Homo sapiens: one gene and its partners. The protein of the gene in region 3 interacts with the protein of the main gene of each other region in a biochemical or structural test. Each region holds a gene or a part of one and is shown on either strand. Other genes may lie near its edges.

What was found.
Region 1: of the proteins of PTPRJ (region 3) and KDR, one has a biochemical effect on the other in vitro, tested with the Homo sapiens proteins (one study listed by IntAct).
Region 2: of the proteins of PTPRJ (region 3) and INSR, one has a biochemical effect on the other in vitro, tested with the Homo sapiens proteins (one large-scale study listed by IntAct).
Region 4: of the proteins of PTPRJ (region 3) and GAB1, one has a biochemical effect on the other in vitro, tested with the Homo sapiens proteins (one large-scale study listed by IntAct).
Region 5: of the proteins of PTPRJ (region 3) and CTNND1, one has a biochemical effect on the other in vitro, tested with the Homo sapiens proteins (one study listed by BioGRID).
Region 6: of the proteins of PTPRJ (region 3) and NSF, one has a biochemical effect on the other in vitro, tested with the Homo sapiens proteins (one large-scale study listed by IntAct).

What each region holds. Positions count from the first base shown.
Region 1 is NC_000004.12:55,108,596-55,112,095, reverse strand, and holds part of KDR (vascular endothelial growth factor receptor 2 precursor), read left to right. Parts: intron 1-1,327; coding exon 1,328-1,442; intron 1,443-1,529; coding exon 1,530-1,693; intron 1,694-3,500. UniProt on the Homo sapiens protein: Tyrosine-protein kinase that acts as a cell-surface receptor for VEGFA, VEGFC and VEGFD. Plays an essential role in the regulation of angiogenesis, vascular development, vascular permeability, and embryonic hematopoiesis.
Region 2 is NC_000019.10:7,284,415-7,287,914, forward strand, and holds part of INSR (insulin receptor isoform Long preproprotein), read right to left. Parts: intron 1-3,500. UniProt on the Homo sapiens protein: Receptor tyrosine kinase which mediates the pleiotropic actions of insulin.
Region 3 is NC_000011.10:48,127,059-48,130,558, forward strand, and holds part of PTPRJ (receptor-type tyrosine-protein phosphatase eta isoform 1 precursor), read left to right. Parts: intron 1-721; coding exon 722-985; intron 986-3,400; coding exon 3,401-3,500. UniProt on the Homo sapiens protein: Tyrosine phosphatase which dephosphorylates or contributes to the dephosphorylation of CTNND1, FLT3, PDGFRB, MET, KDR, LYN, SRC, MAPK1, MAPK3, EGFR, TJP1, OCLN, PIK3R1 and PIK3R2. Plays a role in cell adhesion, migration, proliferation and differentiation.
Region 4 is NC_000004.12:143,437,876-143,441,375, forward strand, and holds part of GAB1 (GRB2-associated-binding protein 1), read left to right. Parts: intron 1-123; coding exon 124-725; intron 726-1,926; coding exon 1,927-2,012; intron 2,013-2,203; coding exon 2,204-2,507; intron 2,508-3,500. UniProt on the Homo sapiens protein: Adapter protein that plays a role in intracellular signaling cascades triggered by activated receptor-type kinases. Plays a role in FGFR1 signaling. Probably involved in signaling by the epidermal growth factor receptor (EGFR) and the insulin receptor (INSR).
Region 5 is NC_000011.10:57,792,802-57,796,301, forward strand, and holds part of CTNND1 (catenin delta-1), read left to right. Parts: intron 1-1,208; coding exon 1,209-1,280; intron 1,281-2,775; coding exon 2,776-2,928; intron 2,929-3,500. UniProt on the Homo sapiens protein: Key regulator of cell-cell adhesion that associates with and regulates the cell adhesion properties of both C-, E- and N-cadherins, being critical for their surface stability.
Region 6 is NC_000017.11:46,593,669-46,597,168, forward strand, and holds part of NSF (vesicle-fusing ATPase), read left to right. Parts: intron 1-3,500.

The DNA of each region.
Region 1 (3,500 bases), on a different chromosome or scaffold from region 3:
TTGTTTATTCTCTTTCATTTACATAAATGTCTGAGTTTACATGGTAATTTGTGTGGCATCCTACTTATAAGCCTTGGAAAGGATTTTGGAGTTTATATTATGAGAATGCATCAATACAGTGAAATTTTAAAAATACCTTAGATAATGCTATTTATTAGAGTTGTAATCATAAAAGTGGCAACAACTATAACAAGTATGATTTAGTGAGCACTTACTTTATTAGCTCATCTCATCTTTGAAGCTGAGATTGGAACTCAAGTTCCTGACTACAAAGCTATGCTCTTGACCTCTAGGTCACGTGGCATCCCTAGCAAGAACTTGAAAATTTCTTCTGAATGAACAAAATAGAAATCACTAAGTGTCCTAAATTTATTTAAATTATTTCACTTGCCAAGATGCACTTGTCAAAATACACAGAGAGAGATGTGCTCTGGCTTATGTTTTTATAGAATTACTTTTGTTTTCCAGAATACTTCAGGGAAATAGGGGCAGAAATAAGGAGGTCAGTTGGGAGGCTAATTGCAGTTATCCAAGTGAGAGTTGAGGGGTGGCTTAGACAAGGGTAGTTGAGGTGGAGGTAGTGAGAGGTGATCTGCTTCTGGATATATTTTGAAGGTAGAGTCAACAGGGTCCGCTGATCAATTCATTGGTTGTGGAGTATAAGAGAAAAAGAGTGGAAGATGACTCGAGCGTTAGCATGAGCAACTGAGTAAATGATGGTGTTATTTACTGAGATGGCAAAGATCGAGAAGGCAGTGAGATTTAGGGAAACAGTGTTAGATATGTTTATCTGGAGATGCCTGTTAAACATCCAAGTGGAGATATTTAACATATCAACCCGGAACCCAGAGGAGTCAGGGCAGAAGATAACACATTTAGGAGGTACGTGAATGATACTTTAAACCTGAGGCTAGAGGAAGGTGTAAATAAAGAGGAGGTCTGAGGACTGAGTCCTGGGGCCTCATGGTGGAAGAGGTGTGTGGAGGCTGTCATGGGAGCAGAGGAGAAGGAGCACCCAAGCATCCCTGGGGGACTTAGAGAAAGCTGCACAGAGGAGCAAGTGTTTGAGTTGAGACTTGAGCAATCACTAGGCTTGTGGGAGTGCACTAGCGGGGAGAGAAAAGCAAATGCAAACACAGGAGGTGTGGGAGAAACACGGGAGGTGTGGGAGAAGCTGAAAAGTGACCCACTGAAAGATAGTACAGGAAATCTTGGAACTGCAGCTACTCAGACCCTCAAGGTCTTTGACGTTTCACTTGAAATGAAAAACTAAATCAAATGACCATTTACAGTAAGTTGACCTTTTTTTTTTTTTATTTTCTTCCAGAAAAACCTTTTGTTGCTTTTGGAAGTGGCATGGAATCTCTGGTGGAAGCCACGGTGGGGGAGCGTGTCAGAATCCCTGCGAAGTACCTTGGTTACCCACCCCCAGAAATAAAATGGTAACTACTGGAAATAAATGCAAAGCATCATTTCGTGTGAGAGCAAATCCTTTGACTATACTAATTCCTGAGAATTTTTTTTCATAGGTATAAAAATGGAATACCCCTTGAGTCCAATCACACAATTAAAGCGGGGCATGTACTGACGATTATGGAAGTGAGTGAAAGAGACACAGGAAATTACACTGTCATCCTTACCAATCCCATTTCAAAGGAGAAGCAGAGCCATGTGGTCTCTCTGGTTGTGTATGGTGAGTCCATTCAATTTTCCTCTCTGCCCAAGATTTATTATGATACATTGTCTTCCAAATCAGCCAAACCACCGTTCCTCTGCCTCCTGCTGCTTCACTCATATCATGGCTGGGCCTGCGTACAAAAGTCATCTGGCGTGGTGAAGCTGAAGTGAAACGTAGGACCATGTGCTCTGGCCATGTTTGTTTAAGAGGCCGTGTAAATGAGCTTTGTGGTGGACAAATGCAAGATTAAAGTAGTGATACCCTCGATAGCTAAATGTTGTGAAATAAGAATGCCCACAGGGACAGTTGTCAAGCTAAGTTATACTACCATGTTCCCCTCTCATGGAATTGCCCACCTGGTACACAGATGTGTAAGACCCTTCTCCTTAGATTTTGTGCAAAGCTTCTAGTTTGATGTTGTAGTTGATGTATCAGAGATGTGCAGGCACGTTCCAACTCTGAAGGCTTTTGAAGTTGACACTGTTGGCTTGGTTGGGAGCTTTTCTTTTTTCCTTTTTGACAGGAGTTCAGGATCTGATTTTGAGTCTGTAAAGGAAAGATAGTAAGTTTTTGATGTAAAGATAATTTGAACTTTGTTTTCTGAAACTGAAAGGTACAAATAAGTGTTTGGAATGGAGTGGGGAGAAGGGTGCCATGGTCAAGTGAGTGTGAGAGGTGCTAAGGTGATGTGTAGATGTGTAACAGGTTTCTTTATTGCAGGACTTCGCAGAACCTTTTATATGCTAATGTATATTGGTATTCTCCAGGAGGAGAGACATAGAGTATTCAAGGTTTAACAAACCTATTTGACCAGAGCACCTTTTTTCCCCTGAGCAAATTCATTAATCTCTCACTCCAAACAGTTTGAGAAATGCTTCTCTGTTGTAATTCTTTGTTCCCCCTTCTGGTACGGCATATTAAAACTTCAGGATATTTTCCCATGACATTAAGGTGCTTCCCTACGTGTCCTGATACTCTTCTGTAGGCCGCTGAACTTGGCTTTATTATTTTTTTTCAGGGAATATTTTAAAGATAGGCTGGGTGCCGTGGTTTGCATCTGTAATCCCAGCACTTTGGGAGGCCGAGGCGGATGGATCACCTGAGGTCAGGAGTTCGAGACCAGCCTGGCCAACATGATGAAAACCCGTCTCTACTAAAAATATAAAAATTAGCCAGGCATGGTGGTGGGCACCTGTAATCCCAGCTACTTGGGAGGCTGAGGCAGGAGAATCACTTGAACCCAGGAGGTGGAGGTTGCAGATAGCCGAGATCGCACCATTGTACTCCAGCCTGGTGACAAGAGCAAAACTCCGTCTCAAAAAAAAAGTTAACAGGTTCCAAAAAGGTTGTTTAGAAGCAGCATAGGTGTAGGGGACTGGGGAGAGGAGAAACTGGAAAGTGTATAAGTAGGATGGGAGGAGGAAATGAACAGGAAATAAAAACAAAACACGGACAGCAAATAGCCCATTTCATCAGTTCATGAAGCCACTAAATATTTTATTCACTTTAGCAAATTCTCTGCTATATGAAATAAACATAAAAAAGAAGTCAAGTCTTCAAAGCATAATCTGAGGCTTTAGGTTGACAGTAATAAGGAAATAGTTTTGACTTTGGAGTCAAAAAAGAAAGAAAGGAAAAAGGGAGAGAAGAAAGAAGGAAGTGAGAGAAGGGAGAAGGAAGAAAGGGGAAGAGGGAAAGGGAGTGGAGAGGGAGGGAGGGAGGAAGAGGGAGAGAGAATGAAAAACTCAGATGATGGTGGCAGGAATGCATTCTCTAAAGATTTACACCTTCCTTTAACATGAGGTGGTTTACGTGTTTGGGT
Region 2 (3,500 bases), on a different chromosome or scaffold from region 3:
AGTAGAGAGCAGGGCTTCAGCACCCTGGGGGGCATTTGAAACAGCCCCATCACCAACTGAAAGCACAAAAATGCTAAAAATGTGGCACCAAATAACCACAAAAAGGACTCAGGTTTTTTTGTTGTTGTTTTTTGTTTTGAGTCTCACCCTGTCACCCAGGCTGGAGTGCAGAGGCACAATCTCGGCTCACTGCAACCTCCACCTCCTGGGTCCAAGTGATTCTCCTGCCTCAGCCTCCGGAGTAGCTCGGACTACAGGCGCCCGCCACCACACCTGGCTAATTTTTTGTATTTTTAGTAGAGACAGGGTTTCACCATGTTAGCCAGGATGGTCTCGATCTCCTGACCTCGTGATCCACTCGCCTCGGACTCCCAAAGCGCTGGGCATGAGCCACTGCGCCTGCTCAAAAAGGACTAGTTTTAATCCTCAGTGTGCAGATTGTATGAATCTGACGCATAAGGGCTGAAGCAAGAAGGTGGAATGCCCTCTTACTTGACCTCACATTTGAGACTCGTACTTATGAGTGTCCTAAAATGACCAGAAAGGCACTGAGCATGCTGGTTTGAGGGTTACAAATACATTTGAGTGAGTAGGTGAATTCAAAAATACAGGGTCTGGGGCCAGGTGCAGTGGCTCATGCCTGTAATCCCAGTACTTTAGGAAGTCAAGATGGGAGGATCACTTGAGGCCAGGAGTTCGAGACCAGCCTGGGCAACATAGCGAGCCCTTATCCCTGCTGAAAAGTTAAAAATTAGGCCGGGCACAGTGGCTCGCGCCTGTAATCCCAGCACTTTGGGAGGCTGAAGTGGGCGGATCACTTGAAGCCAGGAGTTTGAGACCAGCCTGACCAACATGGTAAAACCCCATCTCTACTAAAAATAAAAAAAACTAGCCGGGCATGGTGGCGTGCCTGTAACCCCAGCTACTAGAAAGGCTGAGGCAGGAGAGTTGCTTGAGCCCAGGAAGCAGAGGTTGCAGTGAACCCAGATCACACCACTGCAGTCTGGCCTGGGCAACAGAGTTAGTGAGACTCCGTCTCAAAAATAAATAAATAAATAAATAACAATAAAAACTAGCTGAGCATGGTGGTGTGTGCCTGTAGTCCCAGCTACTCAGGAGGCTGAGGCAGGAGGATCGTTGATGCTCAAGAGTTGGAGGCTGCAGGGAATTAGGACCACACCACTGCACTCCAGCCTGGGTATCAGAGCAAGAACCTGCCTCTCAAAATAAAAATTTAAATTTTAAATTTTAAAAAGAAAATATGGGATCTGGGAATGATGAGGATCAACCAGACTCAAATTTAAAATTTCAACTTTAGGAATATTAATCCAATTATAAGATAAAATCTTTTAAAGTCTAGAGAAAACTATAGGGATGGAGAACAGATCTGTGGTTAGGGGTGGAGGTGGTTTAGTGATAAAGGGGTGAATTGAGGGAGTTTGGACAACAACGAGACTGTTCTCTATCCTAATTGTGGCAATAGCCATACAACTCTACACATGGCTTAAAAATCATAAAATGGTACACCTTTAAAAAGCCAATTTTACTGTATGATAATGTTTAAAATATTTTGTTGTTGTTGTTGTTACACAGTCTCACTATGTCACCCAGGCTGGATGCAGTGGTGCAATCACAGCTCACTGGCGCCTCGACTTCCCAGGCTCAGGTGATCCTCCCACCTCAGCCTCCCTAGTAGCTGGGACCACAGGTGCTCACCACTGTATCTGGATAATTTTTTTGTAGGGTTTTGTAGAGACGGGGTCTTGCTATGTTACCCAGGCTGGTCTTGAACTCCTGGGCTCAAGAGATCCACCTGCTTCGGCCTCCCAAAGTGCTGGGATTACAGGAGTGGCCCCATGACACCTAGCCTAAAAAATTACTAAACATCAAAAAGATACATAAACCAATGGCACAGTTACCTCCCTGGACATGAATGGAATGCTTTTGGGGACAGGGGGACAAGATTTTTTTTTATTATTTCTTTTCTTTTTGAGACAGGGTCGGGCTCTATCACCCAGGTTGGAGTGCAGTGGCATGAATATGGCTTACTGTAGCCTCAACCTTCTGGGCTCAAGCGATCCTCCCACCTCAGCCTCCTGAGTAGCTGGGACTACCGGTACACACCACCATGCTCAGCTAATTTTTAAACTTTTTCTAGAGATAATGTCTCATTATGTTGCCCAGGCTGGTCTCAAACTGCTGGCTTCAAGTGTTCCTCCCACCTCAGCTTCCTAAAAAGTCCAGGGATTACAGGTGTGAGCCACTGCACCCCACCACAAGATTTTGCAGAAGGACTTCTGTGTTTTTTTTTTCCTTTCTACACTTTTGTAATTTTTCTTTTTGCAATGAGAATGCATTACCCGTCACTATTTAATTAAAAACTGTAAATACCATGCAGCTGCAAAATATCAACCAGGCCACCCCAAGAAGTATTCTTTTTTTGTTTGAGACAGAGAGAGGATCTCACTGTTGCCCAGGCTGGAGTGCAGTGGTACAATCACAGCTCACTGCAGCCTTGCCCTTCCAGCCTCAAGAGGTCCTCCCATCTCAGCCTCCCAAGTAGCTGGGACTACAGACACATGCCACCATGCCCAGCTAATTTTTGTTTTATTGTTAGTGGAGACAGGGTCTTGCTGTGTTGTCCAGGCTGATCTGAAACTCCTGGACACATGTAATCCTCCCACCTCAGCCTCCCAGAGTGCTGGGATTGCAGGCATGAGCCACTGCACCTGGCCAAAAATATTCTTTTTTTTTTTTTTTTTTGAGATGGAGTTTCGCTCTGTCACCCAGGCTAGAGTGCAGTGGCGCAATCTCGGCTCACTGCAACCTCCACCTCCCAGGTTCAAGCGATTCTCCTGCCTCAGCCTCCCAACTAGCTGGGATTACAGGCATGCGCCACCACGCCTGGCTAATTTTGTATTTTTTCAGTAAAGATGGGGTTTCACCATGTTGGTCAGGCTGGTCTCGAACTCCTGACCTCAAGTGATCCACCCACCTCGGCCTCCCAAAGTGCTTGGGATTACAGGCGTGAGCCACCACACCTGGCCCAGAAGTATTCTTAACAGAAATTAACACAAGAGAGGCCTGAGAGAAAAAAAAAAAATCTCATTATATACACCAGTTATATTTTGGGTTCTAGATACAGGGTTGAGAGCATGAAATCCTCATTCAATGCCAATATAGCTGTTTAAATAAATACACATGGCTAAGTAGGCAACATCACGGTGATTTTTCTCATCCTTGGAATCCGTATATTCAGTGCAGCAAATGACACACGTTTCTTTAACATCTCTTGCGGTGTAAAGAGAAAGACATAGCGTTTCATTTCACTCACTTCATTCGAGTTGTACCAGGGACTGCACAAGCTATTAGGCATGCTATCATGAATGAAACCTCAAGGCGTCTGTTCCAGATCAGAGGTCAGCAAACGCTGTTCTGTAAAGGGCCAAAGTGTAAATATTTTGGCCATGGAATTCCTGTTTTAACTACTCAACCTGCCG
Region 3 (3,500 bases):
GAGGAAGGCACTGACTCCTTTCTCCTGTGGCCCTTCAGGGGCCTGCCCATTGGCTCATAGTGGAACCCGGTCACAGCCCATGTGGCAAGACCCCCCATGATGCCTTGCACAAGGTCAGCCTCCTGGGCCCAGAGCAGGTGAGGGAAGGGCAGTGGATATGTCGGGAGGGTGGAGTGGGCAGGTGGTGAATAACTGGCACTCGGGTTATCTTTTCTTGAGGTTAGGATTGCTCTCCAGTTTTATAGGTGAGGAAGCTGAGCTCAAGTGGTTTTCCTGTGGCCCACCTGGGTGTCATAGCAGAGTGAGCCCTGGAACCCAGGCCTGCCTCGTCCTGACTTCTGTGATCTCGGGCGATCACATAGATCGCAGTGTTCGCTCTTGCATCATGTGTGTTTGACAACTTTTCTGGGTGCCCCTGGCCCTAGGGTAAGACATGCATAGAGTCCAAGTCATCATTTAGGTCAAATCTCTAAAGTCAACTTACAAAAAGGAACAAAGAATAACCCTGCAGGTGCCATTGGCCAGGTTGTTTCTTCACCGCCCAATGATGCCTGACTTTGGCTGGGACCGTCATGCTTTCCTAGCCACGGTTGATGGTGCAGAGGAGGAAGGAACACTCCCCCAGGAGAGTTTGCTGGGCTTGACAGCATGCCCTGATGACCTCTCCCTCCCTCTGCCTTGGCCGTTCTGGTTATTTTGAACTCCTCTTGTGTTCTCACAGATGCTATTCAGGTTTTTGACGTCACCGCTGTGAACATCAGTGCCACAAGCCTGACCCTGATCTGGAAAGTCAGCGATAACGAGTCGTCATCTAACTATACCTACAAGATACATGTGGCGGGGGAGACAGATTCTTCCAATCTCAACGTCAGTGAGCCTCGCGCTGTCATCCCCGGACTCCGCTCCAGCACCTTCTACAACATCACAGTGTGTCCTGTCCTAGGTGACATCGAGGGCACGCCGGGCTTCCTCCAAGTGCACACCCGTGAGTTCATGCCTGGCTCTCACCACCCTTTCCTGCTGTCCTGCTCCGTGCCAGGCCCAGACACAGGATGCATGATGTAGTAATGGTGACTGTTGGCTGACCACACGCCAAGCTTCGTGTGACATGCTTTCCTTGCACTGGCACATTGTATGCTCACAACAGCCCTGTGATGTGGTTGGAAGTAGCCTTATTTTATAGATAGGAAGCCAAGGCTGAGAGAGGTGCTAGACAGGTATCACAGCTGGAAAGTGGCAGAGGTGAGATTAAGCCTCTGGTATTTCTCACCTGGAGCCTGCGCTTGTAACTCTCTTTCCAGTGTGGAGGAGACCTAGAGTGAATTGATACAGGGAGACAAAAATGACCTGGTATTCATATCCCCTTGTGTCTTGGGTGCTGACATTATAACGAATCACTGGCACAGCTGTATCTCATCTTTGTTTGTTTAAATGTCCCTTAAAAATAAGATTTTATGCAGCAAATAAAAAGCTTTAGGTTTCAAAGAAGGTCCGATAATGTAAAATAAAACAGTAATGGTGCACTAGTAGTACAGTGGTATAATATTGATTATATACTATTAAACAATAGTAGTGACACCAGCACTGCATTTTGCACTGTGCCATGAGATTTATAGACACTGTAGTGGCCTCCGAGGTAGGTATTGGGGTCCCCTTTTACAGATGAGGAAATGACACCCTGATGGCTGAACAGTTTGCCCAAAGCCACAGAGCTAGTGAGTAGCAGAGCAGGACTTGAACTCAGGGGTGTGTGGCTCTGGACCCAGGCTTATCCCACAAGAATGTCCATTCCTTCGCAGGAAGCACACCTTAGCATTCTTATAGATGTATTTTGGACTGGATCTTTGGGAAAATGAAATATGCTTGCATTTCTTTACCTTTTACTCTTTTACTATTTATTAGTTAGGATTAGGTTCAGCCACGAATAACACCACCAAAAACAACAACAACAAAACCCAAGTATCCGTGGCTTAAACAAGACAGGGGTTTATTTCTCTCTCCTGTAACAGAAGCCCAGTGCTAGGCAGGATGGGGATGATAGAGGTTATCCAAGGCTCAGTTGTATGAAACAGAAACTGTGAGCTATTTTAACCAAAAGGGATTTATCCTGGGAATTGAGGTTTTGCAGAATCATTGGAAGAGCTGGTGTATTAGTTTGCTAGGGCTACCAGAACAAGTACCAAAGGCTGTGTGGCTTGAACAGAAATAGACTTTCTCATAGTTCTGGAGGCTGAAGGTCAAAGATTAAGGCAACGGCAGGTGTGGTTTCTTCTGAGGCCTCCCTCTTGGCTTATAGATGACTGTCTTCTCCCTCACATGGTTGTCCTTAGTCTGCGTGTGCCTATGCCCTCATCTCCCTTTATAAGGACACCAGTCTTGCTGGATTAGGGCCTACCTTCATGACCTCACATTAACTTAATTACCTCTTTGAAGACCCTGTCTCCAAAGACAGCCACATTCTGAGGTCTTGGGGGTTAGGACATAAACATACACATTTGGGGGTGAGGGAGCACAAGTCAGCTCATAACAGTTGAGGAGCAGGCTTTAGGCCTCGCCCCAAGAAATGACTCCTGGACTAAGTCTGCAGAACTGACCCCCTGGAGAGTCACCACCTTGGTCACAGACAGCAGAGGGAGGAATCAGGAAGTCTCTGCTGTAGTTGCGGGATCCAGGGGTCTATGTTCTGAGCTGTGATCCTGGGATCAGGAAGCTGCAGCCACCGCTGAGGTTTTGGTTCTAGAGCCAGGCAGCGTGAGCTCCAGTCATTGCATCCACACTACAGGTATAAGAAGGAGGAAGGGCAGAAGGTTGTGCCCCACCCTTAAAGGACACTTCCTAGAAGTCACCCAGTACCTCTGCTCATGCTTCGTTGAGCAAAACTTAGTCACATTGCAACATCTAGCTCCATGGGAGCTGGGAAATGTGGTCTTTGTTTCCAACAGGTATGCACACACAGGGCTAAAAATCTGGGTGGGTATGATGAAGGGAAAATGGGGGAATGGATTTTGGGGGTCAAGACTGGTCTCTCTCTGCTGTCCCTCCCTGAACAGAGGCTCTGGGAGGCTAGTAATGCATTCGAGATAAAGCAGCCAGTGTGGCCAAGGTTCTCCTCCAGAGCCTGAGCCCTTGACCACAGGAGCTCACGCCTCCTCTCATTTCCTGTGAATGATTGTGTGCAATGTAAGCACAGAGCTTCTGCACTCTCATGATCAAGTGCTCTCTCCATGGCCAGAAACAGCAGTTTCTGAGGGGCTCATGTTGTAGGTGATGATACAAAGAAGACAGAGAGAGGGATCAGGTGTCCTAAGTGTACATTTCATCTCAGTATTTTCTGAGGTGGGGCATCCCTGTCTCCTGGAGAAGTATATTTTTAATCTAGTTGTTTACTTTCTTTGCATAGCCCCTGTTCCAGTTTCTGACTTCCGAGTGACAGTGGTCAGCACGACGGAGATCGGCTTAGCATGGAGCAGCCATGATGCAGAATCATTTCAGATGCATAT
Region 4 (3,500 bases), on a different chromosome or scaffold from region 3:
GATCACACAAAAAATCTAATGAGAAAAGCCCTATCTTTTGATTGCTTAGCGATAAACATGTTTATAAAAAATGTATTCTTAGTCTCCACCTTGTTTATTCTGTCATTAACAATTTTTATTTAGAACGCATGCTGATTCTGCAAAATCCACCTCTTCTGAAACAGACTGCAATGATAACGTCCCTTCTCATAAAAATCCTGCTTCCTCCCAGAGCAAACATGGAATGAATGGCTTTTTTCAGCAGCAAATGATATACGACTCTCCACCTTCACGTGCCCCATCTGCTTCAGTTGACTCCAGCCTTTATAACCTGCCCAGGAGTTATTCCCATGATGTTTTACCAAAGGTGTCTCCATCAAGTACTGAAGCAGATGGAGAACTCTATGTTTTTAATACCCCATCTGGGACATCGAGTGTAGAGACTCAAATGAGGCATGTATCTATTAGTTATGACATTCCTCCAACACCTGGTAATACTTATCAGATTCCACGAACATTTCCAGAAGGAACCTTGGGACAGACATCAAAGCTAGACACTATTCCAGATATTCCTCCACCTCGGCCACCGAAACCACATCCAGCTCATGACCGATCTCCTGTGGAAACGTGTAGTATCCCACGCACCGCCTCAGACACTGACAGTAGTTACTGTATCCCTACAGCAGGGATGTCGCCTTCACGTAGTAATACCATTTCCACTGTGGATTTAAACAAATTGCGAAAAGGTCAGCTCTAGTTGACTTCTTCTCTATTAGAGGTTAATGATAGAAAATCGATTTTTCTGAATATTTGTTCTTTTAAGCGTAGTTAAATATACTATGCTACAAAATACAGTCCATTTTTTTCCAGCTCTACAGCTACCTGGAAGGGTATATTGCATTCATGCTCTGCTGGAAGGGAAAAAGAGTTGGAGTTTCTCACCCCTGAAGAAGTATGGCCTTAGTAATGCCTTCCTGCCTCAGGAAGTGTGCCCTTCTCTCTCCCACTTTCTATAATCCTGGGTGGATAGGCCCTCTGTTGGGACAGAAGGGCAGGAAATGGACCAGCCACAAAGCCTCTCCGAGTCATACCCTTTCCTGTATTTGTGTGCCATTATGGCCGCTTCTAAGTCACATCTGTTGGGCTCTATTTCCTTCCTTCCTATATAAGCAGTTTTTATGTTGTGTCTAACAGGTGATATTCTGTTCCAGTCAAGCCATTATGCTGTTTGATTTTTACTTGTGTTTAAAGAGCTGAATCTTCTTTCCCCTTATCACTACCCACTTCACTCATTGCTAGTGAGTATACTTTCCTATACTGTCTCCTAGAGTCTGTATCCAAAAGTTACAGACCTTGAGAGGAGAAGAAAAAAATGAGTCTGGGTGATTCTCTGAGATTCTCAAAGTCCTACAAATAGAAAGCTAAAGTTTTTAATGCACATATCCTAAACAGTATGTGCTAAAATTTCTGTATTTTGTGGTAGAGTTTTCCTCAGCTATCTCCAAGATTTTAATGTATCTGTGATTATTACTTAAATCAGTACTTATTTCACCATTCAATAACAGTATCTAACTCCTTTCTTGAAGTGACTGTATAACCTGGTTATCAGTTAGTGAGATGTAAGTTATGCCCAAGGTGGTGCAAACGATGAGAAAATAGAGGTGTTTCTCTTCATCTTTAGATAACCTATCTTATCCCAGACTTAGACATTCACTCACACTCAAAATTAGATATTGGTATTGGTTAGCATATGAGTGAGTGTCTGCATTTTCTAGTGGTTTAATATGCCAATTCAAGACACAGTTCTATGAGCATCCTTTTTAAAATTCTGTGTGTGTGCATGTGTGTATGCATATGTATAATGAGAGAAAGATAATAGGTCATCCCAATGACCCTGAGAGCTGGCAAAGATGGGAATAAATGTTGATAGTTTGTTCTTTATTTTAGATGCTAGTTCTCAAGACTGCTATGATATTCCACGAGCATTTCCAAGTGATAGATCTAGTTCACTTGAAGGCTTCCATAACCACTTTGTAAGTATAATTGACCTTGGCATCATCAAGTGTATTTCATTGTCTAAATCTTCATAATTAGTGCCATGAGACTAAGTGATATCATGAAATAAAAGTACGCTGAGATCCATATGAATGAGTGTGACTTACAATTGTGTTTTCATGTGTGACAAGAGTTTTTGTTTATTAAAAGAAATATATATGTGTTTTAGAAAGTCAAAAATGTGTTGACAGTGGGAAGTGTTTCAAGTGAAGAACTGGATGAAAATTACGTCCCAATGAATCCCAATTCACCACCACGACAACATTCCAGCAGTTTTACAGAACCAATTCAGGAAGCAAATTATGTGCCAATGACTCCAGGAACATTTGATTTTTCCTCATTTGGAATGCAAGTTCCTCCTCCTGCTCATATGGGCTTCAGGTCCAGCCCAAAAACCCCTCCCAGAAGGCCAGTTCCTGTTGCAGACTGTGAACCACCCCCCGTGGATAGGAACCTCAAGCCAGACAGAAAAGGTAAGGAGAGCATGGCAAAGTAAAAGGCTTGGGGAGTGCCAAGTTAGATCTATCTTTAACTGCCATTAAATCCAAAATAGAATTTGGACTAGAAATTCTGAAATATTTCATAGTTCCATAGCCATCAAGTTATTTAAGCAAAGCAGTACTGCCATTTATAAATTAACAATTATGATATCACATGTTGATGTGAGGTGATATTTATAAGTCTCCTATCTCTAGAGCAGAGGTTACAAGCTGAAATACTCACGGGGTGAGCGGACAACTGGGGAGAATTAGAAGAAACTGGACTGCCGTAGCCCCATCTAATGGGAGTAACTAACCTACACTGCTACAATCCTTTGTTGACTTGTGAAATGATGCACCCATGCAGGCAAATCTTCTGGTATATCAGGAAAAGCCAGAGATTTCAGATTTTATATGTATTATCTCTCAATTTTTAAAGTTCTATCAACTAATTTAATTATTAAGAAAACATTGCAGGCCAACCCAAACACTTCTGCAAGCTAGATAATGGCCTTCAGCTGCTATTTAGTAACCTCTTCTCCAGAGTATATAATATCAAATCAGACTTAAGATTATTAATGTATTTGACATAATTATTTAAGAACAGTGAGACTGTATAATCTTTCCATTCTGTTCATATAACAACTTCTTAAAAATTACTTTGCCTTTGCTGGGGTAATACATGCTTCTAGTCTGTCATTTTTTTTTCCATGCTGGCCTTCATAAGTAACATTAAGTTCTAAGGTAACATAGTTTGTTAAGAAGTCTGTAAAAGAAACTGTTCAGCCAAATTGGGTAATGCCTACCCAGGTTTTTTAAATTGGGGTTTAAGTTGTTAAAACACAGACAATTTGATTTGTTGCACCATGCTGTTAGTGTGGCTTAATCTTGACAACCAAGTAAATTAGCATAAATGTAAATGTGATGAATGATACAATATCTGGCTTACATTAGGGTGTTTCAGCACATTTGAAAAGTCTCATGTGC
Region 5 (3,500 bases), 9.7 Mb from region 3:
TACGCGTGAGCTACTGCACCCGGCTGAGTGATTTTTTTTTTTTTTTTTTTAAGATAGAGAAAGTCCCTCATACTGAGGAGCCTTGCAGTTGAGAGAGAACAGAATTCCAGTTGGAGGATCAAGGAATTTGAGGGAGGCAGCATGCTTGCAGTGTTCCTAGGATTTTTACAGGAACTACAATAGAAAGTTAGGGATGAAATTATATTGAAAGGAGAAAGCTGGACTGCTCAGGTTTGGAGGTCATGGGGAATTCCAGGATTCAGTATGTGGTTGCTCTCTTATTTTTAACTTCTGCTTAGCAGTAAAACCACACCCTTCCTTCTTCCTGAAAGTAATGTTTAACTTCCTCTCCCTGCAGCATTACACTCTATGTAATGGGAGTGGGGTGGAGGAAGAGTCTCCCAAGGTGGTTGGATCTCACTATTCTACTGGAAGAGGAGCAGGCAAATATATTTTTATGTGGTATAATGTCATTAGATTATTTCCTGCTGCTTAAGACAGAGCAACTTCTGGATGACATTTTGGAATGTATTCTGTGGCTCTAATAATTGTTGGTAAAGATATTGAGCCTTCTGTTTTCTTGAGGGGAGTTGGGGTGCTTGTTTTTGTACTTGGAAAGGGAGACTCGTATCTCTTGCTTTTTTCTTTAATTAAATTTCTGTTTTTTACATTAGGACATGATAGCCATCTTGCTTCTTTCTTTAAAAAGCTGCCTGGAATGGGAGTTTCCAGTGGTAGTACTGCATGAAGATTCATGAGACTATAAAGCTCTTTGGAAACCCCCCAACTTAGCCCTTCCAACTTTCCTTACATTTTTATGGCTTTCCAAAAAGGTTGCATGTAAGGGAAATTATCTAGGTCTGTGCTGTTTATTCAGCAAATAGTTTTTGAGCACCTGTTATGTGCCAGGCACTGTTCAAGGCACTAGACTAAACTAAACTTATCCCAAAAAACCCTCTGCCCTCGTGGAGTTTACGTTCTTATGTTCCAGAGACCCTGTCTGCCAGAGTTCCAGGCCTGATTTTCAATTTTGAGGAAAGTGCTAAGACTAAAGAGTGAATGGTTCTTTTATGAGTACTGACACAAGGACTCCAGGCCACACATATCTTCTTGAAAGCCCTTTTCCTGTTTGAAAAAAAGATCGTTTGTATTTGATAGAGCAAAAGAAGGCCACAAAATGAATTGTCTTCTTGTGGGCTGTGTTTCAGAACGGCCGGTTTGTGGGCGATGCTGACCTTGAAAGACAGAAATTTTCAGATTTGAAACTCAACGGACCCCAGGTAATTCTTTGGCTCAAGACCTGGGTTGCTTCATTCATATTTTCTTATTTCCCCAGCCTATAAGAGCATATTTGTGTCTTGTAAGGTGCCTGGCACATTGTACATACTCGTCAATTAGTTTCTTTTATTTACGAAAACAAAGAAGTGGAGCTCCAAAGTATATATGCAGTTTTGTTTTGGAATGAATTTTAATGACCATTGATCTTTATGACTATTCCTCCTCCCCACTGCCACCCCATTTGATCCCTAAGTACTGCGTTTCTTTTCTAGAGACAGTAGGCTTCTACTTTGCAGCAAAAAACCCTACCTAAAATCTGGCTGGTCTTGAGCCTTTTAGACGGTATCTGAAGAGTAACATAAAGCCAGTCAAAAGATGGCTCTTACTGGGATTTTCAGGTTTGTCTTAAAAGTTCTTTATTTTTGGCCAGGCATGGTGGCTCATGCCTGTAATCCCAGCACTTTGGGAGGCTGAGGTGGGCAGATCACCTCAGGTCGGGAGTTGGAGACCAGCCTGACCAACATGGAGAAACCCCGTCTCTACTGAAAATACAAAATTAGTCAGGCGTGGTGGCACATGCCTGTAATCCCAGCTACTCGGGAGGCTGAGGCAGGAGAATTGCTTGAAACCAGGTGGCGGAGATTGTGGTGAGCTGAGATCATGCCATTGTACTCCAGCCTGGGCAACAAGAGCAAAACTCTGTCTCAAAAAAAAAAAAAAAGTTCTTTATTTTAGACTGGGCACGGTGTCTCATGCCTGTAATCCAACACTTTGGGAGGCCAAGGCAGAGCAAAACTCCGTCTCAAAAAAAAAAAAAAAACAAAGTTCTTTATTTTGGCCAGGCGTGGTTTGCTCATTCCTGTAATTCCAGCACTTTGGGAGGCTGAGGCTGGAGGATTGCTTGAGCCCAGGAGTTCAAGACCAGCCTGGGCAACATAGACCCTGTCTCTACAAAAAAAATAAAATTAGCCAGGCATGGTGGCGTGAGCCTGTAGTTCTAGCTACTCAGGAGGCTGAAATGGCAAGATTGCTTGAGCCTGGGAGGTTGGGGCTCCAGTGAGCTATGATCATGCCACTGCACTCTAGCTTGGGTGATAGAGTGAGACCCTATCTCAAGTAAATAAATACAAGTTATTTATTTATTGGGTGAGCTGCTCTTTTGAGGGATCACTCAGATATAGATGAAACTGCATTTAACACAGTTCATGTTCACTTAGATGACCACAGCTGGGAAGTTAAATCTACTGTCTGTCACTTGGATGTTGATGTGGCTATAGTTAGTTCATGTTTGTTAAATGACTACAACTGGGAAATTATGTCTACTGTCCTTTTGTACAAGTTCAAAAGATGACAGCCACCCATCTAAAAATCCTGAGGCCTATAGAAGATGCATGAGGAGTCCCTGTCTCCAGGTTTACCACTTATGCTTCTTATTAGGATGGCTTGTTATACATAGCACTTAATAGTAGTTTCTTCTCTTTTCTCTTTTGCATATAGGATCACAGTCACCTTCTATATAGCACCATCCCCAGGATGCAGGAGCCGGGGCAGATTGTGGAGACCTACACGGAGGAGGATCCTGAGGGAGCCATGTCTGTAGTCTCTGTGGAGACCTCAGATGATGGGACCACTCGGCGCACAGAGACCACGGTAAACTAAGACGTGTGTAAGATCTGGAAGTGATAAGAGGTCTTTTCTTCTCTATTAGGGGAGGGGTTAAGCACTTAATTAAGATGGAGGACTGATATGCCATTATTGATCTGATTGCATGAAGTGATCTCTGGCCAGATAGAAAGGATGAAGAGATGGGAAAATCTTATGGGATAGGGAAGACAGAAGGTATATCAGGGTCTATAGTAGCTTCCCTTATAAGCATAGTTACTGTCAGGGCAATTTTCCTGCTTGGGGACTTCCTATAGGATGGAAAGAAAGATAGATGGTAGGCTTTAAGGCATTCCTAGGTAAAGTGACCTAGGGATATAAAGATTTGTTTCTTTTGGAGTGGTATAGAATTTAATTGTTCATGGCTGGGCGCGGTGGGTCACGCTTGTAATCCCAGCCCTGTGGGAGGCTGAGGTGGGCGGATCACGAGGTCAGGAGTTTGAGACCAGTCTGGGCAACATAGTGAAACCCCGTCTCTACTAAAAATACAAAAAATTAGCCAGGTGTGGTGGTGTGTGCCTGTAATACCAGCTACTCGGGAGGCTGAGGCAGGAGAATTG
Region 6 (3,500 bases), on a different chromosome or scaffold from region 3:
TGTGGTTCTGCTCCTGCTTCTTTCCACTCATTCTCTTACTCTGTGTGCTCAGGTTATATGGTAAACGAGCCTTTCAATTCCTTGAACCTGTAGTTTCTCTTACCACAAGGTCTTTGCGAGTGGTGTTTCCTTTCTTTGTAACGTTCTTCCCCCCAACCATTTACCTCCTACTCAGACATCACTTAGCTACTCAAGGGAGGCCTACTCTGACCCCACATTATAAGTCAGGATCCTTTGTTATATACTCTTGAAGAACTGTATTCCTCTCCTTAGAGATTTATCTTTTTGTTACTTTGAGTGTGTGTTATTATTTGCTTCTACCACTTCACCTCAGTGAAAAGCAGAGAACATACAAGTTATTTAGTCATTATCAACTGCGCTTTGTGTACCTTGTGGGACTTAGGTACTCAATACATTTTTGTTGAAAATGAATCAGTCTCTGAACACTCTGGTGATAGATGGTATATTACCCTAAAGCTTGCCTGTAATGTCATACAGCTATGTTAGGTCTTTGTTATCTGGAGTTCCATGTAACTTTTATACGTAGTTACTATTTCTGCTGTTTCAAGCCATACGGAACTAAACACAATTCTTTTTCCATGTAATAGCTACTCAAGCTACTCATTTACTTGAATACAGGTTACATATCTCCTCAGATTTTCGATTTTGCAAGTTAAACATCCCCCAATTCCTAGCATATTTCATATTCCAAACCCTTCATCATTTAGGCTACCTTCCTCTGGAAGTAACCTAATGTTACTGTTTTGTCAACCTTTCTTCTAAAATGTGCCCAGAGTGGAACACAGTGATCAGAGAAGAATGTACTTAAGCTATTATTGTCTTGAGATGGACACTACCATTATTCATACCAGATAAAATTGTATTAGCGTTTTTTCTATAGTAAATCACATTCTTGGCTCATACTGAGCTTGTAGTCAGTGAAAACTCATGTTCTTTTAAAATCAGCTCCCTAGCTCCATTCTAGGTTTAGAGCAGTTTTATTGAACCTAAATCAAGACCTTATCCTTTTACAATTCATTTTTTTAGGTCAGTGCATGTCTGCTGTTTGTTGAGGTAATCTGGATTCTTAGTTCTTTCATGTTAGGAAACATAATAGCTGTCTCTTCCAGTTTGGTTAGATCTGTAGGTTTAATCATGACTTCTGTTTCTACGTTTGAGTTATTGGTAAAGGATAGAATAAGACAGGGTCAGAAATAACCCTTGGACATGCTGCCAGTGACATGCCTCTAGACTGATACCCATTAATACACTTGGGCACTGTTGCTTAAATACAGATGTGTCTCATTTAATTCCAACAAAACAACCTGCAAAGTAGGTAGTATTATCTTTGTTTTTTTGCAGAGAGAAAGAGAGAGAGATTTAGTAACTTGAGAAGTTCACATAGCCAGCAAGAAGCAGGGTCAAGATTTGAACTCAGATCAGCCTGGTACTGTTACCTAGTTCACCAGCTTAGTTGCAAGAGTGTAGTAAAGACTAGGTTTACCTCACCTAGAACTTTTTGGACATAATAATGTTCAGAAACTATCTTCTACCTTTTGGAAAATCTGAAAAACTTTGGCCCATCTGATTGTCTATCATTTCTTCTGATAGCCTTTATTTTCTAGTAACTACTGAGTGATTTTTAGCAAAAATAGTTCACCTTGTTGCAATACTTTTATTTGTGCATATTTATGGAGTACATGAAAATTTTTTTACATGTGTATAATGTGTAGTGATCAAGTCAGGGTACATGAGTCCAATGTATTAAGTATAGTCATCTACTCAGCTATCAAACATTGAATTTATTCCTCCTATCACTGGATCTTTTTTTTTTTTTTTTGAGACGGAGTCTTGCTCCGTCACCCAGGCTGGAGTGCAGTGGTGTTATCTTGGCCTCACTGCAACCTCTGCCTCCCGGGTTCAAGCGATTCTCCCGCCTCAGCCTCCTGAGTAGCTAGGATTACAGGCATGTGCCACCACGCCCAGCTAATTTTTGTATTTTTAGTAGAGACAGGGTTTTACCACATTGGTCAGGATGGTCTTGGACTCCTGACCTGGTGATCCACCCGCCTTGGCCTCCCAAAGTGCTGAGATTACAAGTATGAGCCACCGCGACTGACCTCATTGGATCTTTTTACCTTTTAACCCACTTCTCTTCAGCCTTTCTCTCCCTTACTCCGCCTTCCCAGTCTCTGTTATCTATTTTTCCACTCCCTGCCTCCTTGTGTTCAAATTTTGTAGCTCCTACATATATGTGAAAGCATGCAATATTTGTCTTTTTGTGCCTGGCTTATTTCACTTAAGAGAATAACCTCCAGTTCCATCCACATTGCTGCAAATGATATGATTTCATTCTTTTTATGGCTGAATAGTATTCCATTGTGTACATGTATGACATCTTCTTTATCCATTCATCTGTAGATGGACACTTAGGTGGTTGATTCCATATTTTTGCTATTGTGATAGTACTGCAATAAACATGCAAGTGCAGCTATCCCTTTGATACATTGATTTCTTTTCCTTTGTGTAGATACCCAGTAGTGGGATTGCTGGATGGAAGGTAATTCTATTTTTAGCTTTGAGAAATCTCCATACAGTGTTCCTTAGTGGTTGTACTAGTTTACATTCCCACCGACAGTGTATGTGAGAGTTCCCTTTTCTCTGCATCCTTACTAACATCTGTTACTTTTTGTCTTTTTAATAATAGCCATTCTGACTGGGGTAAGATGATATCTCATTGTGGTTTTGATGTGCATTTCTCTGATAGTGGTGTGGAACATTTTTCCATGTCTTCTTTTGGCCATTGTATGTCTTCTTTTTTAATGGGATTATTTGTTATTTTCCTTTTGAGTTGTTCGAGTTCCTTGTATGTTCTGGATATCAGTCCTCTGCTTGATGAATACTTTGCAAATATTTTCTCCCATTCAACAGGTTGTCTCTTCATTCTGTTGATTATTCTTTTGCTGTGCAGAAGCTTTTTAGTTTGCTTAAGTCCCATTTGTTTAGTTTTCTTTATGTTACCTGGGCTTTTGATGTCTTAATCATAAATTCTTTGCTTACACCAATGTCCAGGAGTGTTTTCCCTAGACTTTCTTGTAGTATTTTTATAGTTTTGGGTCTTAAAATCTTCAATCCATTTTGAGTTGATTTTTGTATATGGTGAGAGATAGGGGTCTAGTTTCACACTTCTGCATGAAGTTATGCAATTTTCCCAGCATCATTTATTGAAGACAGTGTCCTTTCCTTAGTGTGAGTTCTTGTCAGTGTTGTTGAAGATCATTTGTCTATAATTATGTGGTTTTATTTCTGGATTCTCTATTCTGTTCCATTGGTCTACATGTCTATTTTTATACCAATACCATGCTGTTTTGGTTACTATAGCTTTATAATATATTTTGAAGTCAGATAATGTGATGTCTGCAGCTTTGTTCTTTTTGCCCAGGTTTGGTTTGGTTGTTTGGGCTTTTTTCTTTTTCCTTTTTTGGTCCCATATGAATCAC